Linked DNA regions of Homo sapiens: region 2 is linked to region 1. The links come from fine-mapping of genetic effects on gene expression. A gene starts in region 1. The other region holds a variant in brackets. All regions are shown on one strand. Distances are between the middles of the regions.

The links.
Region 2: its variant is fine-mapped to the expression of LINC02805 in prefrontal cortex (BrainSeq, PIP 0.95).

The regions. Positions count from the first base shown.
Region 1 is chr1:148,155,383-148,171,866 of GRCh38, forward strand. It overlaps LINC02805 (long intergenic non-protein coding RNA 2805), which reads left to right and starts at 7,328. Exons shown (of 2, transcript NR_135559.1): 1 at 7,328-7,610; 2 at 7,760-8,031. It overlaps LOC105371227 (a long non-coding RNA gene), which reads left to right and starts at 283. Exons shown (of 2, transcript XR_922068.4): 1 at 283-1,024; 2 at 1,408-3,164.
Region 2 is chr1:148,291,247-148,303,488 of GRCh38, forward strand. It overlaps LINC02806 (long intergenic non-protein coding RNA 2806), which reads left to right. Exons shown (of 2, transcript NR_187239.1): 2 at 1-615. LOC105371225 (a long non-coding RNA gene) reads right to left here. Exons shown (of 5, transcript XR_007066561.1): 1 at 10,356-12,242; 2 at 5,027-5,253; 3 at 4,878-4,936; 4 at 4,504-4,667; 5 at 1-58. TRH-GTG1-4 (tRNA-His (anticodon GTG) 1-4) reads right to left here and starts at 11,559; the gene lies at 11,488-11,559. RefSeq lists an enhancer at 10,722-11,578. The variant C/A (reference allele first, on the strand shown) is at 3,844.

The DNA of each region.
Region 1 (16,484 bases):
AAGTGCCTGAGATGTATCTCAAATGAATAGACCTGAGGAGAGAAGCTTGTGTCATTAGCTCTGACCCTGCAGCACTAATCCTGGTTTACCCCTTTATTTCACTCACCCTGAGCACATCAATTAATTTGGTGAAAGAGCTTACACTTTAAGTGTAAGCTTAACATCTCACTGAAATAGTTCATTCCAAAGAAAGAGCTAATTCTAACCTCTCACAAGTGCTTGAGCATTTGCATAAGTGAAATTTCACTGTGTGAGTTTCACCCAACACCACCTCTGCTCCAGCTCCTGCTACTCTGCTGCTCATACTGTGGAACTCCACAGGTGGAGTAGAAGATCATCAGAGAGAGTTTTATTTGCAGTAAATTTGGTGTGCAACAGGCCAAGCAACGAGGAGTCAAGGTGAGGCAGAAGAACAGCAGAGGGAAGTGGAAGTTGGATAAAGGGTGAACTGAGTAGGAGCGGAAGCAGGATAAAGAGGTGGGTGAGCAAGAAGCAAGATAAGCAGAAGTTGAGCAGCGAAAACAAAAGTGAGATGGAGTAGTGAGTAAAAGTTTATGGCTGGCAGGATCCAGAACAAACCAGTAAAAGGCATGCATATGACAGAGAAAAAGTAGCCTTAAAATGACCCCGTATGATAATCAGCTCATTAAAGCTAATGCATATGGACTGCATATCATGGGTGTACTTAAAATTATGGGATGGAGGTGATGCGGAAGCACACAGGGGCCAAGTAACTAAGCAACCCACCTATCAATCAGAAGGCACATGCTGGGTAGAGATTAGGCAGCCCCAGGAAGAGGAGAAAAAAGAAAAAAAAAAAAACATGTAAAAAGACCCAAAGCCCAAAGTTCACCAAACTGACGCTGATCTCATTTTGCAGAAGTCAGCCCGTTCTCCCCTCTCTGAGAGTGTTACTGTGCTTAATAAGTCTCTTGCTGCTTTGCTACATGTGTGTGTGTCACTTCCAATTCTTTGTTAAAGACACCAAGAACCTGGGACTTCACAACACCAGCCGGTAACAAAGGTATGTAAGCTTGGGAGGGAGGAAAGAAAGAAGGGAGCAAGAGGAGATTCAGACATGAGATGCATTCACCCTATGAGTTGAACCCTGGTCTCCAGCGTGGGAGTTGACAATTCTATTACTGAACCATCAATGCTCCGTTTGGTATAACCTCTCATAGTTTTTTTTTTTTTTTTCCTTAAAGATAATCTCTAGTGCTATGGGCAGGCATGAGGGGGCAGGGAGGATGGAGGTGGGAAAGTTCTATAATAGGCTGACACAGATATTTTTGGAAAACAGAGCTAACAAAGCAACAGGCACTTGAAGCAAAGGCTTGCCGTAAACCTTCCACAGTTTGCCAAGAGAAGAAATTCTGTAGTGAAATTTTCACTTTCTCTCTTGTGTAGATCTCTGTAAGACACAAAAGTTGGATGACAGTCGTTTTGATTCTTGGACTTTACTAGAGACTCCAAAGACGCATCTGAGGAGAAAAGCTCTGGGTCCCTGGGATGACTGTGCCACTCGACATAGCCTCCTGGAGTGGCCAAAGAGAGTGTGGATAAGAAAAGAAATATTGGAGTGAACTTTCACTCACTCCCACTTCTGTAGGTTTCTTAAAATATATGGGTTTAGAAGCAAGATACTTGGCGTTTTCAAATGACTCAAAAGAGATGTAGATGAAGAGAAGTTCGGTCATCCCACAGATCTTCCGGAGTAACCTGGACACATCCCTAAATCTCTAGCTCCTGGGTCTTCGAAAGCCTGTTTGCCTCAGGGTTGGGAGGAAAGGGTTTGGAAAGTACCAAGGCAAGGGTTGGCAAAAAGATTACCTCATCAGTGAGGAAATGAAATTTCCAGAAGTTTTCGCCAGATCTGGGACCAGAGACAAATGCTGGATGAATTTCCTATGCAAACCTCTTTTAGAACCACCGCTTCAAAGGCCGTCCAGAGACTTCAAATTAGATCTGGTGAAACTGCTCCCGGTAGGGGATTGGTAGTTCAGCGGTAGAGGTTTTTGTCTCCCACGCCGGCGACTCCGGTACGACTCCCGGCCATGCAGGACTTCTTACCCTTCCGGCAGGAAGGGCTACTACGTTTCTACCCAACGAAGTTATTATATTATACAGGCTGTACTGCATTTATGGACCTTGGTCGTGGCAGCTAGAAGCTAACCTGAGGGGCGTGCCACCTCTGGAGCATTCTCTGTGCTCGAACTAATAATCCCGGAATTTACGTTCCTGTGCTCGAAGCCTGTCCTTGAAAGTGGGGAGTGTTTCCGGTGGGTTGCTGCAGTTTTAAATACTGGGAATTAAAACCTTTGCTACTTTCATCTAGTCTCCCGGCAAACCCCTGGGTAACCCAAAGCCCATCAGAGGGATTCGCGTGCTGGGCTTTCCGCTACGTTAGGCCACGTCTCACTATGGAGCGAGGATCAAGAAGGTCCGGGAAGGAGAGAAGCTGCGGGGTCCAGGGAGACTCTTCGGCGGTTGGTCGGAGAGGTTTCAGCGGCCCAAGGAAAAGGGAAGCGTGTGGGAATCTATCCGCGTAGAGATGAGGGGCGCGGCGGAGACAGTCCCACGCAGAGGTATGCCCAAACACCGAGTTACTTAACCTCCTCAACCACCTTGGCATCCGCGCCTTCCGTGGGCCCGTCGGTCTTCCGGGAGAGATTCTGTGTCCCTGGTATTGTGTGTCAACAGGTGTTAGCCTGATAGTTATATTTTTAATGAGAGAAAACGAACTACAGAATTTGCGAGTTTTGCTTTTTTTCTGGTTTTGCTTTATACCTCTTGGATTCTCCTTCCAAAGGATTCCAATCTGAGGGGCATTGAGGTGTGACTATGGTAGACAAGGGGTGGTGAATTTTCATCCAAAAATCTTTGGCGGATTCCCTTGCTCTCCCGCTCCCCAGTCTAAGAGCAGTTTAAAACAGAAGATCAGAAACATTTGGAGAGTGTTTTTTTCTCTGCGTTCTAATGATAAACTTGATTTATTCAATTCCAAAAGTTTCCTTATTCTGAGGTTGTCTTTCCATATTTTGAGTATAAAACCATGGCCATACTATATGTTGGACCCACGAAGGTTCTTCTCTTCACTTGTTTATTTGTAAAGTCTCTTTGTAATCTGAGAATTTCTTGAGTAAACTGGGAACTGTTACACATAATTCTGTGTTTTTGAGCATTCTTTGTAAACAGGAATCAGGATTGGGGGTGGGGAGGGAGGGAGGAGTGGGAGTCCTGATTTGTGTAACGGAAAATCATGGATTACTTATGTGATGGAGCAAAGGTTTAAAAACTCTTAGCGTCCCCGGATTTCCCCTTTTACTGTTTGCTGAAGAAAATTCTGTCCTTGACTCCCTTCCTTACCCTCTCCTGGCCTGTGAGAAGCTTCCGCCCTATTCAAGTTATTTCCTCCTCCCCTCCCCGCCCCACTCCCCCAGGCAGCCCCCTTCTGTTTTTCAGTGAAGCCGCTGGAGGAAAGTCGGGTTTGTGAGAAGACCCACACAGGCAAGGACAGCAGGAGAACAGTGACATAGTTACACTCTTGTCACCAGCACTGTCATTAAGAAGTTGTAAAAAGACAAAGACAACAGAGGAGAGCGGAGAATAAAATCTCCGTTTCAGCTATTCCAGGATGTTGTGCCAATTGTCCCGTGTCCTTGATAGGAAGTAGTAAGGAGCTAGGGACATTTTTCCTGAAGGCTTCCATTGCTGGCAAAATCTCATTAAAGGTGTCTACATTGATAGGTTGGCCACAGGATGGATACAAGAACAGGCTCTGGCTTACCTCTGCCAAGATATATGTGTAAGAATACTCTCTGCAACATTAATTTTTATTGTAAAATAGCAGAATAATTTTATTATTCAATCATTATATAATGTTCAAATGTATGTGACTTTATTTGGACAATGAAAAATGCAGTTGTTAAAAATAGACAATACAGATGATTCAGATGATGTTACTGATGAAAATAACAGATGTCAATTACTGAGCATTTATGGCACTCTTACATACATTAACTTATTTAAAGTTCAGAACAACCAAGGAAATGAGCAACCTGTGGCGGGCGTGAGAGGTTCTGTGGCACAAAAGGAAGATAGGCATTCAAAGAACACCAGGATAGAAGAGCCGCAGTAGGCCGGGCGCGGAGGCTCACGCCTGTAATCCCAGCACTTTGGGAGGCCGAGGCGGGCGGATCAAGAGGCCAGGAGATCGAGACCATCCTGGCTAACAGGGTGAAACCCCGTCTCAACTAAAAATACAAAAAATTAGCCGGGCGTGGTGGCACGCGCCTGTAGTCCCAGCTATTCGGGAGGCTGAGGCAGGAGAATCGCTTCAACCCGGGAGGCGGAGGTTGCAGTAAGCCGAGATCGCGCCACTGCACTCCAGCCTGGGCGACAGAGCGAGATTCGGTCCCCAAAGAGAAGAAGAAGACCCGCAGTAGGAGGAAGAGAGAGGAAGTGGAGTCGGCCAGCTGGGATGCTGGAAGCCACTGGATAGCTCAGGCTGAGAGAGGGCGCTGTGCTCCGCAAGCCTCCCTGCAACCGCAGGCCTCGGGCCGCCTTCCTCCAGGAAGACGCTCCAGACTTCTGGTATCCGTTGAGATCTAGTTTCCCTTGAGACGCTGCAAAGCGCATCGTCCTTGAGCATTTCTCCTCTCCCCAAGACCCTCCGAAGGAAGGATGAGCGGACGGAAGATTCACACCGAAGTGGTCGAGCGCCCAGATCCCCGGCTTCCCCGGGAGCATTTCCCAAGTTTCTTTCATGGGTAAGAGTGGGCCCGGCAGGATAATGCCTCCGGTTCTATGAGGAGCAGTGGGGGAGATGCCCACGTGGCCACCTCTGTGGGCTACACGACCCAGGCCTTCCAGGAGGAGCGAGGAGTCCTGGGCCCGGGTCAGCGGTGCCAAAAGAAGCAGCAAGGCAAGGGGTCCCCTCCTACCTCAGGATCTCTGTCCTACTGGGGTTAGGAGACGTTCATCCAACTCCCTCTCCAAGTGTTGGAGAGGAGGCTAGGTCTTTCCCACGAGCTGGGGAGGAAGAGGTGGCAGAGGCGGAAGAGGAAGCCGGCTGAGATGTGTGAAGCAGCTCTGGCTATAACCGGTAGGGAGAGGGCGCGCGGGACCCAGGAGCCTCCGTGCGGAGCCAGGCCTCAGGAGCAGCCGCCTTGCTCCTGGAAGGGGTGCCTCCCTCCATCTTCTGTCCAAAGACTGTAGGGAGACCTTCTCGCCTGGTGGGAAAGCGACGTCTCCCATGCTTTCCCACCACGCAGGCCTTGTGTCCCTTTTCCTGCTAGTGTCTGACCGCCAGCCTGCGGGGGCTGCGGCTGCCGCGGTTCTACGCTGGGTGGAGGCTGCCCGCCCGCTAGCCAAGAGCCGCGCTAGGAGGCAAGAGTCGGGAAGTCGTGTGCAGGCCGGGAGGAGTCCCAAGCTCTGGGTCAGGGCTTTTTTTGCCAATAGCCAAATTCAACGTGTAAAAGACAGAGAGCTCACATCTGTCTGTTCGTGAGCTTCAGTCGGAACAACAAGGAAGGCCCTCAAGATCCCTAGGAGGGTGGCGGAAGGGTCTCTAGCGGCGATATCCGCGTCGGGGGCGGTGAGCCAAGGACTGTCAGGAGCCTGCGTGAACCCAGCCCCCGGGTAGCGCAAACACCACCGCAGACAAGCGCCCCGCGTGTAGGGAAATCGCAGGGGTCAGAGCAGCTGGAGTGTGGTGGACTAGCCTCAACCAGGGAGAGCTCCCTTCTTGACCACGGTCTGTCCCTCGCCAGGTAAGAGGAGACGAGTGTCAGTACAGCCTCCTCTCCCCTAGCCAGACGCTCAGGGTCACCACCTTCCCCTCTGCTCGCCCGTCGCCATTCTTCCAACCACTCGCTGCCAAAGATTCCACCAACAGTCACCCACAGGACAACCCAGGCCTCCTTTCAGCAGAGGCTCCCGCCCCGCAGCCACCGCGCCCTCTCACCCCCGCAGTTCTGCCCGCCGCCTCTGCCCAGTCTGTGCACTTCACCTCCCTCGCTCCCGCTCTCCCCTGAGCTTTACAGTGGACACAGGGTTCGTCCCAACCCTTCTTGGGAGTACTGAATGGAAAAGGGGGAGGGTGCACAATTGCTTGGTAGAGTGTAGACAGACATTGCGGGATTTGACTGTGGTACTATCCCTTTGATGTCCTAGTGATTTTTACACCTGCCTTCTGCTTAGGGCACCGGCCACAGTTTTCCATTAGTGCCTACTCCACCTGCTGTCGTTGTTGGGTAAGCGAACATCGCCCTCCTGTACCACCCAGTCAATAAATGGGCGGTCCTGGAGGACCTCACCCGCCGCTCACCCCCCTCCCAACCTCGCGGCCATCGCCTCCTGTCGCCTCTTCCGAAGGCCTAAGAAGCATGTTAGCTGCGAACTGAGGTGAGGAGGCTCAGCTGACCGCCTGTGTCAGCTGACGACGTGTGCCGCACACAAACGCCACGACTTGGCTTGGCCTCTCTCTCTCTTAGTTATTTGCAGCTCAGCCCAATCGGCGCCTCTGGGATGGCGGAGGCGGCAAAGATGGTGGGCTTCTTGGGTACACCTCCAGGAGAGCTGCCATCTCTGCACGGTGGTGTACACCTGAGCGAGACGCTCAGTCGCTCTCTAAAGCCCCTTCTGCGAATGGTGGACACGGAGATAAATAAGAGGGTGTGTCATGAGAGGCCGTCCACCAGGACTTGCCCTCCTTCGCCAGGGTTTGCACCTTGCAGGGAGACTCTTCTGCCTCTGGCTCTTGGAGCAGGCCGGCTGACAGCGGAGTAAAGAAAGATTACTGCGGGTGGGCAGTCAGTGCAAAACAACTCCCTGACCGGTAATCGAACCCGGGATGCGGTGGTGAAAGGACTGAATCACAGCCACTACACCAGCACGGGGGCACGGGAGAGTCTTTCTCAACCTTATTGCCATTTAAGTGACTGTTTCTGAGTGCGCTGGGAGGACTTGGGCCTTGTGGGGGTCGCTGGTCGCTCCTGGAGTCGTCTCACAAGGCCTTTCCCTCCCTCCTTTCTCCAAAAGAGGAGCCCGCAGGCGACACACCCAGCACTCTGCGAGGCCCACCAAGGCCCTGATTCCCGAGTCCTGGAGCGAGTTGCAGCGCCCTGGCTGCAGCTGACCACTGACCTAGAGATGTGCCTTTGCGAAGTGGCAGCGCATGGAGAAACAGTAGCGGGTCGCTGGGGCCAGAGCCGCCCACCGGGTAGCCAGGAGCAGGCCGGAGCGAGGAGGCTCCCGGGGTGAGACCGGGGCACCCTGAACATCATAAAGGACTCAGACCTTGGCATTCCCGACGTCATAAAGGACTCACACGGATGCGGAAACCGAGACGGGCTGGATGGAAAACTCTTTCCAGACAGACTCCGGGGCCCTCAACTGGTCTCCGACCTTCCCCTGCAACCTGCGACACCTGCCATTTTCCCATCTTAGGCTCCAGAAGCAGAATCAAGTGGGATGTCTTGGAAGAAAAACAAACAAAAGGCCCACTAGGTGGAGTGAAATGGATCAGGAGCAATTATGTTCAATTTCACCTTTAAGTTTTCTCAAAAGGAGGAGCATTAAGAATCAGCCACCTTAGTACATACTTAAAGGTAAATATTACATTTAAGAAAATCCTTGTTATCTTAATGTGGCACTGAGAAAATACTATCAAGTACAGCACGTGGACTAAGTTAGAACATTAAATACACAGGATCTCTTGATAGAATTATCCTCAGACTTTCCAGTTTTAATCTTCTAGATTTACTGAAACCTGATCCTGTCCCCGCTGATGAAACATCAGAGGAATGGGATCCTGTAGGTGAAGATCATCAGCTTATAAAATCCTGTTGCCATCAATGGGGGTAGCAGGAAAATGATGAAGATTGGTTAAGGGGCCAGTGGACTCAGCATTGAAATGAATCATGGACTTGAAGCCAAAAGACTCAGTTTGTGTCCCAGCTCTCTCAAGCAAAGCCCCCAAGTCCCAGTTTCCTCATCTATAAAAAATAATAAAAATACTTAATGGACAAAGTTGTGTGGGAATCAAATGAGATAAAGTATGCGCTGCATATGCCCTAAAGTCTTATTTAAATAAAGGCATTCTTTTCATCTGAGAAATTGAAGAAAAAGATGCCCTGAACAAGAAAGACAGGAGAAAAGATTTTTTTTTTTTTTAATGAAGGATAAAATGATGAAATCCCCCCAGGTATTGCTACAGAAAGGCCTTACCCATGAGCTGTAGGCATATATCCGGTCCTAAGGTCCATTTTGGAGTAGCCCAGCACTCAGTCTGAAAGATTGGACACTGAGAAATATGTGCATCCCATTTTTCTAACTAGCAGCATTTTGATCCTGTCTTATTATCCATACCCAGGCTAGCACACATGATTTTTTCTGCTTGCACTTCAGGAGAAGATAGTCATTGGACAAAAGGTGGGTCATTCTCACGTTGACCAAGTTTCTGTTCCAGTATCACCCTCCCAGGTAGGCCTTTATTCACTCTAAATAGATCACACTGTCTAAAATAGCTACCTTTCCTGCACACAGTCTCTTACTATGCCATTTACTGTCAAAGCTCTTCTCACTCCCTGATATGATTTTGCATGTTGATTTGCTTGTTCATTGCATGTTCCCTCACTACAATGTAAATGTCTTGCCAGTTTTGATCACTACCATATCCCTAAGGCCTAAGAATGTTCAGTACATACTAGGTGCTCAATAAGTACCTTTTTTTTTTATAAGTGAATGAATGAATTCTATTTTTGTCTTATTCCATTGACATTTTCCTGTCTTAGCTGCCTTGGACAGCTCTGAAAGTTCTTCTGCTATTTTGTACACTATTGTCTTTCTCTGTCATTTGAATCTTTTCCTTACTTAGTTTGGGTTCCTCCAATAGTAGAGCTTGAGACAAAGGTTTGGATACCAGTAGTGTATTTAGAAGGTGATCCGAGGATTGGAGAGAACAGGGAGAGTAAGAAGAGAAACAAAGAAGAACCAACAAAAAAGTGCCTTACCTGGGTTGCTGATGTGGGCAGCAGGCACTCAATTTCATCTGGGTTTCCTGAGAGATGTGCAGAATACCTCCCAAAATACAGAAGATGGAACATTAATTCACACAAACTGAAAAGTTTGAAAAAAAAATTAGTCTTTGCCCTTGAGAAAACTTTACTCTGAGTGAAAATGAAAACAAGAAATGCTTGTGACTTATTCATTGTATCAAAGGGAATTAAATTTTATTGAGTACCAAACATGAGCCAGGGACTGTACCTGGCAAATTATATATATTGTCTTATTTCATTATGGCAACAGGAGCTGCCATGTATCAGGCAGCTACAATTTAACCAGGTTCTTCACATGCATGCTCTCACCAGTTCTTACAACTAGTCAATATGAGTTTTTATTTCCATTTAAGAGATGAGAAAAGTTGAGACTTGGGGAAAAGAAATAGCTTGGCCTAGGTAACACCATCAATTCATAGCAGATCTTTCTGACTCTATAGCTTGTCCTATAGAGAAACAATTACATGTAAGGAAAATAAAAGGCAATATAAATTTAAGTGAGTGACTACATGACACTTTCTTGTGAAGAGTTATAAGAATTCAGAGAACGCAATGTGCAACATGAGGACCATGGTCAATAATATTATATTGCACACTGGAAATTTGCTAAGATAGTAGATTTTAGGTACTTGTACTGTAAAAAAAGAAAGGTAACTATGTGAGATGGTGAATATGTTAACTTGCTTGACTGTAGTAATCATTTCACTATACATACGTATATCAAAACATCATGTTGTATACTTTAAATTTATATGATATAATAATATAAAAAAATAGAATTCAGAGAAGTGAATGACTGTTGTGAGCTACATTTAAATTTAACAAGATTTTATTAAGAAAATTAGGTTTTTTAAAATTTTTAAGAGAAAAGTGGGGAGGAGAAAATGGATTCCTCTAGGCCAAGGAAACAGCTGGAGAGAAAGGCATGAAGATGAGGTAACTGGCTTCATGGAACCTGAATTATTTTTCATCAAAGAGCTCAACCCCCCATATTATCTTTCATAAATAAGTAGTGTGCCATGGAATTATGGAACATGAAAGGTATGGATTTAGAACATGATCTAGGTTAAAGAAAAAAGAGGAAGAAAACTAAAAGAAAGAAGAAAATCCAGATTGTTGGGATGATTCTGAGGCCCTAGAACCTTAGAAACTCTAAACTCTTTCAAAGTGTATTTGAAGAGACATATATTCAGTGTGTGCAGTCTGACAACAGTGGAATGCCAATAACATTTAATTTCCTGGACTTCTAAACTTCTTAACCTGTTGTGCTGCTGGAATGGGACTGTAAATCAAAATATGCTAAATTGTATGGGGAACATGTGTATTTAGTCATTCCAAACTGCCCAGTGATTTTTTAAAACACTCCTCACAATAGTATTTATGCTGGTCTTGTTTTTCATAAGTCTTTCTTCTCAACCATGCTGCAACTGGTTAATATAGGCATCAAACACAGCACACAAGAAGGAAGAATGCAGAAAAGAAATTCAGAAATGGATGAGAAAGGCCAAAGTATCCCTGACATCTCTCCCATCCCAACTGTTCTAAATGTTCTTCCATTTTCAAACACTACAACAACAACAAAAAATTGGAATATTGCTTTGGGTCTAGTAAATCATTAGCAAATTAAGAACCTGTTTTTAATAACATTTAACTTGTAAATAATGCATTAATTGACTAGCCTGAATGTTAGTTTGAGCATTTGAAACTCTGCTACTAAATTTGTAATGAAAGAAATGTGCTGCAACAGTAGGCTATATGGTGAATATAACAGATTAAATATGACAGTTGATATTTGTGAAAATGGGGTTATAATTAGAGGACACCTGCAGCTCTTTTCCAACCAAAACAACAGAAATTAAACTTGCATAAATTGTGTGTGTGTGTGTGTATTGCATTTTCTATTGGCATGTTTCTTTTGTTATCCTTGAGTCTTGTGTTAGGTTTTATCCCCCGTTTTTCAGGTCATATGTTAAGCAAGCAACAAGTGGCCTTTTGCTGGACACACTTTATTGGATCTCAAAATGACACATTTTTGGGAGGAAAAGAAAAAAAGGACACAGAGATCTTTTTTCCTAGGAGTTAGGAGTTACTAAAATTCATGAGTGATAGCCCAGCATATTATAACTGCTCAGAATTAGAGGAAGCCATGTGAAAAGGAACCAGTAGGGATTTCAGTCTCAACTGCCTTGCCTCCAACTATCAAGTAGGATTTCTCAGACGAAAACATGAAGAATGTGGCACCCTGCCAGCTATACATTATTAAAATTATGCATGGCAGTGAGTCAGGTAGAGAAGTTGCTAGACATAGGGATTAAACCAAAGAGAAACTAAATATTTGCAATGACTAATAATTAACAAAGTGCTGTCATTTCGCTAATTCATTGTTTCTCATTCATTCAACAAATATAGATAAGCACCTTGCAGAGGCTATACTAAACTAGGCCCTGGGATACACAGCTGAATAAGACACAAATCCTATGCCCTCAAAAGGCTGAAAATCTGGTTTGGGAAAATATCTGTAAATCAAAAGAAAGGCAGATCATGCAAGTCAGAGAAAGAGATGAAATACTAAGAAGGAAATCTTGGCACATCTGTCAAATGCAACAGGGAAGTTAAGAAAGATAAAGACAGAAGCATTTCTGTTGAATTTGTCAATCAAAGTTCATTAGTGACCTTGGCAGAAACTATTTTAGTGGAGTGTTGGGAACAGAAACCAGATTACAGTGAGCTACAGGATGAATAAGAAAGAGAATGTAGAAAAGTGAGTGTAGACTGCTCTTTTCAGAAGTCTGACTATGAGAGACTAGAGACAGAGAAAGAGAGTGAGGAAGTTGGGGGTGGTGGGGGAGAGAAAGTATGTAAAGAGTTGGTTTTCAAAGGCCTGAGCAAGTTGCGTATGCTGAGTAGTGGTCACAGCCGTTGCACACAGAGAATCTTGGCATATTAACATACATGAGTGCACATCAGTTATACATTTTTTCCCTATCAGAAGTTGAAATTCCCTTTTAATATTCCAAGTATTAAATTCTCATTTAATATGCTAATTAGCCTGCATTTTACAACAGATTGTATTAGAGCCTGGATACACATCCAACTCGATTCCATGTATGGAGCCGTAGTTGATTTGGTCAATAACTTGCATTGTTCTGCATGAGAACTTCCACAATTTGCTACCTCATTCTAATAGGGTTTGCTTGAATTATATGAAATCACCACCTTTATTGGTCAAAACCAGCTGAATATTGGCAATTTCATGTGGTTCAACCTAATAGTCTGCAGGGGTCTGGGGAGATCATAGCATGTGAATATAATGTTGAATGAGACATAGGAAGAAAGAAACAAGATAGCTGGGACAAAGGGTATTGAATGAGTAGAAAAAAAGTAGTAATCTTTTTGTTTGGGTTAGGTGTGTGTTCCCAAGGGAAATAATTTTTGAGCATGTAGCTTGAAAGTAATAATACCACTTTTAGGTAGTACAAATGGCTCAGGGGATCAATTGGGATTTAGGGAGCGGGGCTTTTACCTGCAATCTGTCCAATTTAGTCAGACTAACTTGCAATTTTTACACTGTTAAACATCTTATAAATCTGAGACCAACAGATCAAAGAAAAGCTCTTTCAATTGAGTGTCTGGGTAACTTGTGGCAAATTTTTTATCCCCGTTGTAATGTGATTCCTCCATCTCTAAAGTGAAGGCATGGATTACCCACTCATTCTCAATCCAATGTGAAAGGTCCAGAATTCTGTGTCAGAGTTAAGAGAGTCCTGGTGCAGTCAGCAAGGGAAAGTAATTTTTCCAAACTGCCTGTGCTAAAAATAAACCCAGGGTAGTCTCAGGGGAGAGCTACCCAGTCCCTTTCACGGACAGTAAATTCACTGTGGTGGGAGGTGAAGATGGACTGAAAACAAATACCTGAAGAAAGAAAAACATCCTAATGCAGGCACCAGTGGTGAGTTGATGGGAACTGAGCTACCACTGGGAATGCATCACCTGAGCATTTTCTCCAGAGCAGAGTTGTTGGACAAATCTATGAGGAGAAATTCCCACAGCAGGGCACAATCTGGGCTCTGGCTAAGTTCTTGGAATGTCATTTGTCAGCTGTCAGAATCCTATATTCATAAAGGGAGAGGAAAAGTCTCACTAAAATGCAACTAAAGAACACACAGCAGCAGAACCTGGTCTCTTCTGTGTTAACAGAACAAACATGAAAATAGTTAAGCCAACATACTTGGAATTTGTGTCAATCATGATACTTTCATTGCTCGTCTTGAGTTCTCATGTCTATCATGCCACGGTGAGGCAATCACTCAGAACAACCCATGGCATTTTGCAGAGCACCAAAGAAGAAGAAGTGGTGAATCATGGGCCTGAGACTTGGTTACACAGTGTCTTAGAGAAATATCCCAGCTCCTTCTCAAGCTACAAAATTCCTCCTGCTAGGCCAAGAATAGATATGGAATTTCCTATCATCTCTGAATTTTTTATTACTGAGTTGCAAGCAGAGCTCTTTCTCCTATTGTATTTATATTATCATAAAATTGATCTTGAGTATGTAGAACTTAAGAAAGTCTCCAAAGACAGATCTGGATGGGCCTCTGTCTTCCAGCTTATAAGATGTATTTTGTAAAATTTAGCATAGCTGCTTTTATTATTATAATACCTAAAATGTATGTGATTAAATACATGAACTGCCTCCCTGAAGGTAAGACAGCTTCTAAATTCTAAAGCTAAATAATCTAGCCCACAGGGCCAGACATAAAATTGCACCCAGAAATTCATACCAAATGTCAAGTCACTTTGGGGTTACTCCTGAGGGCTCAATGCTGATCATGGTTAGGAAGAGGTAATTTGCCCCACTGTCTTGCTTGAGGATGATTTTTTACTGCCACACATGGAAAAAGTTGCAGCTAATTATATGATTGTTCCAAATTATGAGTTCTCCTCCCTAAAAGAAGCTTATAATTTCCCATCCCATTGACATCAAGCTTGGTCATGTGACTTGCTTTGGCCATTGAAATGTGAGCAAAAGTGACAATTACCACTTCCCAGTGGAAACTGAGAGCCATCTTGTGGCTCCACAATTGCTCTTCTCCCTCTGCCCAAAGAATGGCATGACCTAAATAGGGACTCAATTTCAGAATGAAGATATGTAGAGCTGCAACTGACCTACAGCCAACCTGTAACAAGAGAGAGAAATAAATCCAGATGGTTGTAAGCCACTGAGAAATGGTGATTGTTTGTTACCAGAGTATAACATAGAAAAAGCTATCCAATACAACAGTAAAACAAACCCATCAGGTACAGGAAGTGGATCTGCTCCCTGAAACCCATAAACGACCACTCTAGCTGTATCTTAGCACAAATAAGGAAGAGGACCAGAAAAGAAAGGAAGAAAGGAGTTAGGGAAAGAAATCTCAATATTTCCCAAGGAAATATTGGTGGTGTTCTAGAAGAAGTGGCTATGTTACAACAGTTGCATCTTAGGACATTTATTCACTTCCAGGCTTTCATCTCCTCTCAGTGCTGCAAGGAATATCCTGCTCTAAGAACACCAGTTTGAAAAGGACTGGCCATAGATGACTTTGGAAGACCAAAGAGTTCTGTATTGACCTCAGTTACGTCCTTAATACTCTCCAGCAAACATACAATATTTCCGTAGTCCATTAACTTTCCTACTCCCCTGAAAACTGTTTCATGCCTACTCCTCCCTTCTCAAACCTCTAAATGCCCCTGTCATCCTCACTCCAAGCTGATTATTTTGCTTCCTAGTTCACTGAGAAAATAACAGCAATCAAAAGAAACTGCACTCAGCCTCCAGCACCACCTCCTTTTCTCCTGCATGTGTGCCCATCTGCTCAACTTTTCCTCCTAGCCATGCTTCTAGTCAAAATCAACCCCTTAGCTTGCTGCTAGATCTTATTTTACTCATCTATTGAAGGACGCTGTTCCAGTGATTTTCTTTTATTTCTTCTACTTTGCCTGTTTTTTCTCTATTTGATCACTCTCACCAACATTCAAACATCTTGTTTTCTCATATTTTTTAAAAGACTCTCTTTACTCCAATTCCTACTAGCGATTCCCCTTTCTCACACTTCCTTAATAGCAACACTCTTTGAAAGAGTGTCCATATCCCCTGTCTCCAATTTCTTTCCTTTTGTTCTCTCTAGACCTCACTCTAATCAGACTTTCACCTGCACCTCTCTACAGACACTGCTCTGATCAAGGTACCAAAACTCCTACTTTGCTAAGCCAGTGGTCATTTCTCAGTCCTCATTTTATGCAAACAATCAGTAGCATTGGACACAATCACTCTCTCCTCTTTGAAACACTTTTTTTCCTCCACTGAGCTTCCAGACTCTCTGCTTGTTCAGTTTTATTACTACTTGTCTAGTCACTTCTTTTTGTTTCCCTCGATGCTTCTTCTCATCTCTGCAGTTTTACTCCCCAGGCTCAGTCCTTGAACCTTTTTTTTTTTTTAATCTATGTTTACTCCATTGGGAAGCTCATCCAATCTCAGAGCTGTAATAAATTGGTACTTCCAGCCTGGCTCTCTCCCCTGAAACTCACACTCATGTCTTTATAAGACATGATACATGCATGGAATGGATACCTAACAGGCATCTAATAGTTGACATGTCTAAACTAAACTCCTAATAGCCTACAGCAGCATCACAAAAACTGCATCTCCCACAGTCTTCCCCATCTCAGCAAGTAGCAACTCTTAGTTCAAGTCAAAACTCCTTGCAGTTTCCTTGAGTCCTCTTTTTTCATACCCCCATTCTAAACATACAAAAAATCCTATTGGTTTTACATTCACAACACATCAAGAATCCCATCACTTCTCATTGCTTCTACTGCTGCCGTTATAGTCTGAGCCACCATCATCTTTTGCCTGGATTAGTGCAGTAGCCTCCTAACTGTTCTCCTCTTTCCGTCTTTGACCTTTTCTAGTCTATTCTCTACACTGTTTTAATGAAGCAATAAAGTTATTTCATTAAAACATGCCAAATGGCACTCTCTCCTCAACATCTCCCCAGAGTCTTCTCTCATGCCTCCTGGTACCCTGCTCCTCATTTATTCCATCCACTCCAGCTATACTGGTTTCCTTGTTATTTTTTGAGAATATAAGACATGCTTCGATGTCAGCACCTTTACATTTGCTGTTTCCTCTCCCTGAAAATGCTTTCATTCTCTCCATGAACTGGAAGCAAAGTCATTATGGCTCACATCTTCCTTCAGATCTTTACTAGTGAAGTCTTCCAAGACTAGCCTACTTGATGTTGCAAACCCCACCCAGCATGCTCTACCCACCTTCCTTACTTTATCTTCCGCTAAGCACTTATGATTGTCTAACATATCATATGTTTGACTTACTTAGATTATTTATTGTCTGTATCCCCCAACCTGGAATGTAAGCTCCATGAG
Region 2 (12,242 bases), 130 kb after region 1:
GGCAGGTCAGACTTTTGGTTCTATTCAGGCCTTTAAGTGATTGGATGAGGATCATCTACTGGGGAAAGAAATAAGCTTTATTCAGTGTACTGATTCAAATGTTAATCTCATCCAAAACCATGCTCACAGACACACCCAGCATAATGTTTGACCAAGTATCTGGGCACCTTGTGGTTCAGTCAAATTAACACATATTAACTACCTTAGCAAGATGAAAAGCAGTGAATGCAGGATGGTGGTTGAAATTTTAAATACGTTGGTTATATAGTCTCATTGAAAAAGGAACATTTGAGTGAAGACTTGAAGGGGTGGTGGAATAAACCATTTATTTGCTTATTGCCTGTCTCCCTCTATCAGAATGAAAGCTTCATGAAGCGAGAGACTTAATTTTTATCTGTTATATCCCTAGTGCCTGGTGCAGGGTAAGTACTCAAAAATATTTGTTGAGTGAATAAGTAATGATTGAGGATGGGGACTGGTTTGTATCTGGTTATATCTCTTGTCCTTAGCACAGTACCTGGCACATCCTAAGCCATCCAAAAGAGTTGGTTATATGATTGTCTTTGAATTCTATGACTGTTTATAATATACAGTAAACTTCACTGAAGACACTGACTCACTTGTTTTGTTTGATATTGTGGCCCCAGCACTGCAGCACTTAGAACAGTGCCTAGAAAATACATAATAGTTAGTGAAAAATTGTTATTGACCAAATGGGCACAGATAAGGAGACTGAGGCTCAGAAATGTTAAATGAGTTGAAAATAGTCTCACAGCCAGGAAGCAACAAAGCATGGGGCCTAACTTTGTCTTTTTAATTCTCAAATTACAATATTTCATCTATATCAAACTGCTTTAAAAATTGTCCTGGGGTCTCTCGTTTGGCCATGGCCTTTCTTTCACCTACACCATCTCTCTTCCTTGTCCACTCCAGGCTGTGTTGTGTGGTCATGTCTCCCTGAGTGACAAGCAGGCTGGTTATGTGGAGTTGTCAGCACACAAGCCTCCCAGAGGATGGCCTTCTCCTCCAGGTGCCACAGTGTCAGGGGACACTCTCTTCCATTAGCACAAGCAGAAGGTAATGCAACCTTTTGGTGGCCATCGACTTTGTCAGACAATAGTGCCGTTCAGTTTGAAAGACTCCACTGGGAAGTCGCAGACTTTTAAAACTAATTTGGTGTTTATTCAACTTTGCAATCACTTCTATGTACTATCTGTGTTTCACACACCATGAAACGGTGCTATACTGTGCAATTGAATTAGTTGTACAGTGACTCAAAGGCATTAAACAATGACTTTGATATTTTAAGTACTGACTAGGAGGGATTTTTAATTCCTTCCTCATAATGAAAACAGCAAAAAAAATCCAGTTACACAACCCTGGAACACTTACTCTCTTTTCTCTTCTGGGTGGACCCCAGTGAGACAGAAAAAACCTCCGAGCACTTAATTTGCTTCATGGCAGGAGAAAAATTAAACAAGCATAGACGTGCAACCTTAATGACACCCAGCAACACTAGAATAACAGTTCCCAGCTTCTAAAACCTGATATTTAGTATAATGGGTAAATCTGGTGGGAGCTTTTCAGTGCTGCTGAGTTTGAAAAAACAGCTACTTTGTGAGGAGGGGTGGGGGTAGAGGCAGGGAGAGTGTCTTGCTTGTGCTCACTTGTTAGGAGGGTCTCAGTGCAGAAGCCAAGCCAGAGGGGTGCAGGCAAAATACAGCACTGGCAGGAGAGTCCCTGAAGGCTGTGACCCTTCTGCAGACAACAGCATCACTATGCTAGGCACAAATGTGTCAGTTCTGCCAGAAACAACATGGGACTTTTCATACAGTGCCTTTCTGGAGATGGTACTGACAGAAAGGAAGAAGAGAGGGGGAAAAACAATGCAACAAAAAACGAAAACCATAGCAAGTGAATTAGTACCATGAAACTATGAGCATTAACTGGTTATAGTTCAGGGCAAAGCACCTCAGTGATGATTCACATCTGACAATAAATACAGGAATAGCTGTTGAAAGCTAGTTTGATTTTCACAAAGAGGTTTAAACAAACTTTCGTTTGTTCATTAGTCTTAAGCAACACATTTATGGCAGGGGATGCATTAAACCTAACATATGTCTGTGACCAAGGTATTTGGTGGTTTTAAAGATGAAGACACAAAGCCGTGCATATAGTTTATGCGGAGCGGCCTTGAACTACCCGTAATGGAGTGAGATACAGTTATTATGTATTAATGCTGTGAATCTTCATCCAGAGAGAGAAAACAAACAGGCGAGAAGGAATGCAGCATCTTTGAAGATAAAGACTTAGAGGGCCCCATTCTGCAATTGGTATTGAGTTTGCATAAACTCATTTTGTTGTTGTTGTTGCTGCATAATTTTTAAAATGCAACTGGTTTAAATCTGTTCCCTGAGGTAATTTACGCTAAAGCAGCATTCTAACACCATAAATTCCCTGCTTATGGCAATCTCTGGTTGGGTGTCAGGTCGGTGTAAGTTACTGAGCAAATGGCTGCTTCAAAATTTTTAGGGTAATTGCCTCTATAACTCGTTTAGCATAGGCCTTGTCAGGAAATCTCTAATTGTAATTGATGCCTCTGCTTCCTTTTCTCCTCCTGCTTTTTAACCACATTGTTGTACTAAAAGCTTCACTCTCCAGTGCAGAAGAGCATGGGGCTTTTCATCTTCTGTAGCACTCGGATTTTGTTATTATTAAAGCCTTCCCTCATGAAAACGTGATGTCACCCCCGATGGGGTCCAGAAGGTGGTGGTTGGTTGGGTGTACCTCTGCCCCAGCCCAATCTCTACCCTTGCCTAGGAAACCTTCAGTACAGAGAAGGTAGATCTTGATGGGGTTGAGATAAAATGAAGAGCAAGTTACCACTACTCCAATTCTAAGTTTTGTATGAATGCTGGGTTGGCTGTTGATTTCTACCAGAATGGTGTGAGCAAAGTCAACAGCATATTTTTCTCTCTTCTCTCATCTCATGTGTATGGGCATGATGCCTTGGTAGGAAGGGTATCATTGGAATTGTATATTACAATATTCATGGCCAGGAGCTTCTGTTGATTTGTGTCTACATACGGGGATTTTTCATGAAATTGCATAAAGCATGTAAAGAATCAACTCCAAAATCCAATTTGTTAATTATCTTGCTTAAAATATACTTCAATTATATCACATTTGACATCGTATGTCATTGATAGTAGACGGAAATAACACTTAAAATCAATAAGTGTTTTTAATTTATTTTACTTATTATGCTTGTCATAATATTTTGACATGGAGTGCTGACATGTCAACGATGCTGTTATCAGGAGGTAAGGCAATGGCATTAAACTGTCTCACCATCTGTGCTACTGTTTCAGCATAAAGTGGGCCCATGGGGAAAATATAGCTAAAATCTCCAATGAAGTGTCTGCTTATGAAGTAAATACAGGTCATCACTGAATAAAGCAGCCTGAGCTCAAAACAAAACCTGAGGGAAAAAAATCCACACTCTAATCTATTATCTTTTCTCCCAAAGGATTCAACAATAAGAGCACTAAAAATATGCGAGTGCTGTCTGTGTGCCAGACTTGTGAAAAGTGTTCCACATATTTTATCTCATCTCCTCTAAGAGGTGAGGTACTTGCACATGGCAAAACCCAGCTCTGAATGAAAGTCTGTGTGATTCCATGCCTGGATCTATTCTCAGAAACCAAAGCCATCACTATTCTATATGGTTTGGATAGAAAATGGATTCTGACTTCTGGATCCTCTCCTGGCTATTACAATCCACATCGCAGGGGGGTGAGGCACCCCCCGCGATATGGGGAGTCATAGCAACCCCCTCTCCCC[C/A]CCTGGCTGTCACAATCCACATCGCAGGTGTGTGAGGCAACCCCTGCGATATGGGGAGTAATAGGAACCCCCTCCACCTGCCCCGGCTATCACGATCCACATCTCAGGGGGGTGAGGCACCCCCCGCAATAAGGGGAGTAATAGCAACGATCTCTCCACCCCTAGCTATTACGATCCACGGTGGACTCATAGCCTGTTTACGATATTGTGAGTATATATCAACTCCCCCTCTGGAAATTATGAACTATTTCACAGACCTGTGTACACTCATCTGTATTGGGAGTAATATCAACCTCTTTCTCCCTGAATATTGAGAACAGTATCACAGGAGTGTTTCTACTCCCTGCGATGTTGGGTGTCATATCCTCCTCTCCCACGTTGAAATTAGAAACAATATCACTGGGGGCGTGTACACCTTCTGTGATATTTAAAGTAATATCCTCTTCCCTCCAGGATCATGGGAATAATATCCCTGGGGGGTGTACACTTTCTGCGATATATGTAGTAACATCATCCCCTCCGCCTTGGAATATTATTAAGGACCATTTCACGCGGGGGTGTATAACTCTTGCGATATTGGGAATATTATTATCCTCTTTCCCCCCCTGCATATTTGGAAAAATTTGAGGGTTTTAACATCTCGACATCATGAGATTCTACCTTTAGGTCTTTTCTTCCGTTCTGTCCTCCAAATCGGCCTCTTCCGAGTGTGTTGACCAGGGCCAGCCAGGCAGAAGGCTGGTTTCGCTCAAAGAGGATCCTCTCGCCCATCCTGGAACTTCAGGCCTGTTTCGGTTGGACCTGCAGAGAAGCCTTAGGGGCCACTTCGTTCGGCATCCCAGGGGGCAGGTGCGCGGTACAGGGAAGAAGAGGGTTTGACTGTTGTTCTCAACCCCCGGCACCAAACCTCCACCCTGGTGCGCGCCCCTCCAGGCTCCTGCTGGTCTCAGTCGCCGGTAGTTAGGTCTCCTGTCAGCCTGAGCTCCCGAGACACCCAGCCCCGGAAGGACACGTAGGGGAAACCAGCTACTCACTTCGGTCTTGTCCGCAAGGGATCCCTTTCTGACGGGAAAGAAAGGCGGCGAGTCCGGTCCTGTTGAGTAAGCGGAAGAGAGATCAAGGGGAAGAGAAGAAAAATCCTGTGAGGTTTCAAGATCTAAAGTTACCATGAAGTCGACCTAACCTCGTCTGGAGGTCCTCCTGTGGCTGGCGAAGGTGAGTCGAGTCCCCGTCTTCAGTTTGTCAAAGTGGACAAAGCCTACGACAATGGCCAGTACCAGCTACTAGGCATTCCCAGTCTTTCCAGTTGGTGGTACTGGAGCTTCCCTACCCAGGATTTCCGTGGATTCCAAGGGTACAACTGAACAGCTTTTGTTGTTCCAACTGCTCTTATTTGAAGAAAGGGCCGATCTGTTGAGAAGTACATAGGAAAACCACTTTGGTAAGAGTAGTATAGCAACTGTTGTTGAGACTGTCACATTCCCCCCACCTCCTCCTCCCTCCTCCTAGAAATGTTCAATGAAAATTAATCCCCACGACGGGCCTGTTGTACTTTCAATGTACAATTGGCAGAACCTAAGGGAACTCTAGGAGGTTCCGGGATGAATATGGGAAGTATGACACAGTCATTTTTATTTACACATGCATTCCAAAAACACATTGAATAAACACATCCAGTTCACCTGTGCCACACTTACAAAGATGGGAAAAGAGGAACTACATACAAACAAGTGAAGATGTAATTGAATGGCTTTTAAATATCTGCTGAAGGTTTCCACTGAAGGTCTTCTACCAGTGTCTTCTCTTTCTCTAAAATAAGACATTCAAGTGCCAGACCCTGAAATAAGTTTTCTGGTTCCAGCTTGTTCTTTCCCATTCTGTATCTTTGCCCCTCCACTCTCTTCTTACATATGCAGGAAAGGTCAGCTCTCCCTCAGTTTCTAATTTGCAACATCCCACATGAAGAATGCAATGACCAGCATCAAAAATTAGACACCCTCCATGGGACTCCATCTCTGTCTTAGTTGGAGCTAATGTACCATAAACTGGGTAGCTGATCCACAACAGACATTTCTCACAGTTCTGGAGTTTGGAAGTCTAAGGTCAAGGTGCCAGCATGGTAGGGTTATGGTGAGGAACCTCTTCCTGGTCATAGACTGCCATCTTCCTACTGTATCTGCAGGGGGCTGAAAGAGGCTGAGAGAGCTCTCTAGTGTCCCTTTTATAGGGGCACTAATCCCACTCAGGAGGACTCCACCCTCTGGATCTAATTACCTCCCAAAGGCCCCTCCTCCTAATTTTAACACTTTCCAGGGGTGGACAGGGGAAGGTTAGGGTTTCAACCAAGGCATTTTGGGGGGACACAAATATTAGGTCTCCTGTGATCTTTCAAGAAGAAGAAGAAATTATAAATGACCCAAAGCTTTGTACATTTCACAGTTAGAAATAAAGAAAACTTTTCCTAAGATTTTGAAAGGCCTGAAATGTGAGCTTCCTCCCCATCAACCCCACTACCAAAATCTGGACTCTGTGCTGAGTGTTGTGGACTTTTTGTGTGTTCCTCCTCCCTGCAGACAACTGAAGATTTATTCTCTCCAGAGGGTAGAAGAGAGGATCTATTGGGAGAACCCGCCCCCAATATTTCAACGTAGGTTCTTTCTATTTTCCATAAGTGTCAGCCAGCTGAGAAATAAAGACAGACAGTACAAAGGGAGGAATTTTACAGGTGGGGTGCCAGGGGTGACATCACATATTAGTAGGACTGTGATGCCCACCTGAGTCTCCGACCAGCAAGTTTTCATTAAGGGTTTCAAAAGGAGAGGGTGTGTAAGAACAGAGAGTAGGTACAAAGATCACATGCTTCAAATAGCAAAAAGCAGAACCACTGATAAGGGTCTAACAAAGATCACATGCTTCTGAGGGAACAGGGCAAAGGGCAAAACCAGAACCACTGATAAGGGTCCAACAAAGATCACAAGGCAAACGGCAAAGGCAGAACCACTGATAAGGGTCAATGTTCAGTGGTGCATGTATTGTCTTGATTAACATCTTAAACAACAGAAAACAGGGTTGAGAGCAGAGAACTGGTCTGACCACAAATTTACCAGGGCTGAGTTTTCCCAACCCTAGTAAGCTTGAGGGTTCTGCAGGAGACCAGGGCTTATCTCAGTCCTTATCTCAACTGCACAAGACAGACATTCCCAGAGTGGCCGTTCATAGACTTCCCCCCAGAGATGCATTCTCTTCCCAGAGTATTAATATTAATATTCCTTGCTAGGAAAAGAATTTAGTGATATGTTGACTACTTGCATGTTCGTTTATAGGCCCTCTGCAAGAAGAAAAATATGACTCTTTTTGCCCGACCCCACAGGCAGTCAGAAATTATGGTTGTCTTCCCTTGTTTCACAAAAATCGCTATTATTCTGTTCTTTTTCAAGGTGCACTGATTTCATGTTGTTCAAACACGTGTTTTACAATCAATTTGTACAGTTAACACAATTATCACAGTGGTCCTGAGGTGAGGTATATCCTCAGTTTATGAAGATAACAGGATTAAGAGATTAAAGTAAAGAGAGGCAAAAGAAATTATAAAAGTATTATTTGAGAACTGGTAAATGTCCATATTAAGGTGAAATCTTTACAATTTATGTTCCTCTGCCTTGGCTGCAGCCGGTCCCTCCACTTGGGGTCCCTGACTTCCCGTAACAATGATCCTTGGCCCCAAGGGGGCAATCAGCATAGATGTGCAAGTACTTGTATCCCACACTGAAATGAGAGGTATGAAGTGACAGCATATCTTGATCTATGTGATGGTTACATGAGTTATGACCTATTTCAAAGCTTATTATGCTGTGTGAAAAAGAAGAAAACCAGAGGACTTGCACAACCTGAGTTTCAGACTCACTCTAAGCTGTTATAATCAAGGCAGTGTGCAAGTGGCATTGGGAGACACAAATACATCAACAGACTGACTTTGGAGACCTGAAACTGACCCACAGCTATAAGGTTCATAGGTTTTTTGTTTGTTTGTTAATTTCTTTTTGTTTTCTGAGACAGGGACTTACTCTGTCATCCAGGCTAGAGTGCAGTGGCGCGATCTCGGCTCACTGCAATCTCTGCTTCCCAGGCTGAAGCGATCCCCGTGCCTCAGCCTCCCAGGTAGCTCATACTACAGGCACATATTAGTAGACATGAGGTTTCTCCATGTTGCCCAGACTGGTCTCCAACTCCTGGGCTCAAGTGATCCACAGGCCTCAGTCTCTCATAGTGCTGGGATTACAGTCATGAGCCACCATGACTGGCCATAGGTTTTCAATAAAAGCAGTTTAATGGGGCAAAGGAAATAGTTTCAATTAATTGCCTTTCATAAAGGAGAAGGGGTAGACGAACAAGGTTATTTCTCCCTCACACTACACTTGAAAGTAACTTGAGACACATTATAGACCAAAATATAAAAGCCAAAGATATAAAGCATTTCGAGGATACTTTGTGACTTGTTGGTAGACAGAGATTTATTAAATAGGGCACAGAAAAAAATGTATAAAGGAAAGGCTTGATACATTAGACTTCATCAAATATTAGCCATATCTTCTCATCAAAAGAGGCAACAAAGAAAGTGAAGAAATGAGACAGCCTCAGACAGGGAGAAAATAGTCACGAAACTTATCTGACCCCCAAACCCTGTAACTATAAAGTATGCTGAGATCTTCTTACCTGGTAATTAAAACAACAAGGACAACAACAACAACAACAACAACAACAACAACAAACCAATCAACCCAAGTATGCTAGATGGGTAAAAGACTTGAACAGATACATAAGAATAAAAGGTACACACATGGTCAACAAAGCATATACAATATGTTTAGCTCTCAGGAAAATGGAAATCAAAACCACATTGAGACACCACTATAACTCCCAGTAGCATGGCTAAATTTATAAGGAGAGGAAACACCCAATCTTGGAGAAGATGAAGAACAACCACAACTCTCACACGTCATTGCTGGAAATGTAAAATGACACAACTACTTTGGGCCAAGTTTTGTGAGTTTTTATGATCTTGCACATATCTCACTCTTTGGTACCAGCAATTAGGCAACTAGGTTTTCCCCAAGAGACACGAAAACAGGTGCCCTCAAAATCTCTTGTGGGAAGAAAGTTCAAAGCCGGCTTATTCAGAATACCCAATACCGGTTTATTCAGAATAGCCAATACCCAGACGCTCATTATCGGGGTGGAGGTGGGGCGAGAATGGCAAACAAACTGTGCTGTCTCTTTGCAATGGAATACTACTCAGCAATGAAAGAGGAATGAACTTCTGCTACACTCAGCAATGGATAGAGCCAGAGACATTATGCAGAGAGAAAGAAGCATGTAGAACAGAGTAGATGCAACGTGATTCCATCTGCGTGAAGTTCTACAAGCAAAGGTAAAGTGAAAACAATCTGGAGAGTGATTGTTCACAAATAAGGCAGAGGACAATGATAATGATTTTTATAATTCTAGTGATTACGTTATTGATTGAGTAGTCACTAAATCCAGGCCCGTCTGACAACAGCAGTGTAAGGCAGAGTTCCCAAAGAGGCCCAACCTTCCACAGAAAAATGTTGAGGCACATAACATTTAAGATAGTTAACCAAGGTCAGGCAAGGGCCGACATAGATTTCTAATACAGAACCTGGGTTCTTGGACATAGATTAGACTGGACCTGTCCACTTCTCTGTTTCAGATGTCTCTGGGATTCTCAGCTGCATCAGAGGAGAGACAGAAGGACAGAGAAGGAGACAGAGGGAGAGAGGAGTAGGGAAGAAATGGAGGGAGGCACAGGGCCCATAGCTGTGAAACAGCAGAGAAGTAACTCTTGCCAGTGTATTTACAGTATACAGAAGTTTTCTGGTGATCAGGACATTAGCAGATGCTAAGTTTGCTGTGGTCAGGAGATGAATTTGATATGCCATAGATTTAGAAATTAAAACGAAACCCTAAAGTTATTGGAAGAGAATGTAGCAGAATACATTTCTGCCTTAAGAGATAACAGGAAAAAATAAAGCAAAGTAGAATTTCACCAAAGTTATCAACTTCTGCTCATCAAGAATCACCATGAGAAAGTGAGAAGGTGAGCCACAGACTGGGAGAAGATAATTGCACTGTGTTTACCTGAAAAAAAAAAGGCTCAAATTTTGAATATAGAGAGTACTTTTTACAAATCAGTAATAAAAAGCAAAGCCAATTGAATTAGGGAAAATGCTTCAAAGCCTGTCTTCTCAAAGAAGGATTGCTAAACGGTGAAAAGGCATTAGAAAATATGCTCAACAGCATTACTCATTAAAGGAAACACAAATTGAAGCCACGATGTGGTACCGTTTTACATCCACCAGAACAGGTGTATTTAAAAAACAGTAAACACCACGCGCTGTCAAGGATGTCCAGCCAGTGGAACTCTCCTTGCTGGTGAGAAAGCATTCTGGAAGAAACCATTTGGCCGTTTCTAATAAAGTTAATATTACACCTACCCTATGATCCAACAATTCCAGTACTTGGTATTCCTCAAGGGAAATGAATGCACGTGTCCACAAAAAGACCTATACAAGAAGAATTTTCGTTCATCTTGTCCAGCAAGTGGCATCGGTTTCCTATCAGCAGGAGTCTGAACACTTCTGGCCCTAGCCTCTTGGTATCAGAGTCGCCAAGGAAATACAAGGCAGTCAGAGACTGGACGGGAGAACAACACATTATTCATACAGAGAGGAGACAGAGCGGGGTGTGGGCTCCGCTTCAGTCTTGGGCGTTGGTCCCCCATGGCCAGCAGGTCCCTCCATTTGGCCTGCACACACAGCCTCTTGAGAAGCAGAAGAAAGGACCCCCGCTTCCTCCCCTCAGTGGGGGGCAGATACAGCAGCTGGCCAGGTGCCAGTTGATGCACATGCTTAAGTGGAACAAAGGGGTACACACCAAGTCTGATCGGGGGAAAGATACTCCCACACAAGGAGGTGAGTCCAGCACAGGCTGTGATGACTCCTTATCTCTCAGGAAGGAAGTGCTCCAGGCCCAAGGCCCATTCCTACGTGGCAGAGTGGAGGTGGAAAGACCCCTGGCACCAGATTGCCTTTCCTCACACTTTGCTGTTGGCATACAAACTTGGTGACGGGCACAGAGACAAGCCATTGTAGGCCACAACAAAGAGTTTGGAGTTTAAAGTCATTAAAAGCTTCTTGTCGTTTCGTGTGTAACAGCCCCAGTGACTGGAAAACAGGTTCTGAGCACACCATTGCCTTCGTGTAAGCCACCACCAACAGGGCTGACTGGGTTATTTGCTCTGTGAGGCTCAGAGACAGGACGGTGCACGTCCAGAGTTTCCCTTGGACTCCTCCCCAGGTTAGTGAGCTGTGAGGTCTCTTTTCCTTACCCCGACGTGCCCCCAGTGACCGGAAGAACGGTTCTGAGCACACCATTGCCTTCGTGTAAGCCACCAACAGGGCCGACTGGGTTATTTGCTGCGTGAGGCTCAGAAACAGGAGGGAGCACGTCCAGGGTTTCCCTTGGATTCCTCGCCAAGTTAGTAAGGTGTGAGGTCTCTTTTCCTTCCCCTGACGCGCCTGGTTGCGGGAGCAAAAGGGAAGAGCTGACAGCCTAGACTAACGACATTGCCGTGACTCGGATTCGAACCGAGGTTGCTGCGGCCACAACGCAGAGTACTAACCACTATACGATCACGGCGAGCCACAGGCTAAGCCGCGATGGCGGAGCTTGCTCTAGCCCTTTTGACGTCAATGGATTTCGATTATTAGGCGGATTCGTTCCCAGACAGCCACAGGGGACTCGCGCTTTTCTTTCATGCCCGCTCTGCTTTTCCCTCCCTTCCTCCCAATCTTCATACGTGATGAGAACAATTCTCATCTCCTCCACTCCAGCCTGGGCCTCCCTGCACCAGCCTCTCTCGGGAGGTCTCTCTGTCCTGGTCCGCACCTCCTCTGCTTCTGTGGGGCCTCTCCGTATTTCTGCTTTTCACCCCTCCTCTCTCCCGCCCCACCGACCGAGGCCGAGGTGAGCGAGGGGAGCGCAAGCAGCAGTAGAGAATCGGGTGAAGGCGGAGCCAAGAAGGGGAAGAGCCATCACTAGAGCCCACGGGGCGTTCTGCTTGCTTCCCCTGGGACCCACGCGGCTCAGGCCCAGGGAGTCGCGGACCCGGGCGTTTCCTGGGATGCTGGGTCTGACGCCTGCGAGGGTCAGGACGGGGCGAAGGCCATTCCGCTGCCCTTCCAGCTTCGGAATCACCCAATGCACGGGTTTCAACCGTAGCCAGCAAGATGCGCCTCTCAGGTTTTCCGAGGCTTTGGAGCCTGCACAATTGTTCTACAAAAGGCAGTAGCTCCGCCGAACGTTGGATCGTCCCTTGGTCT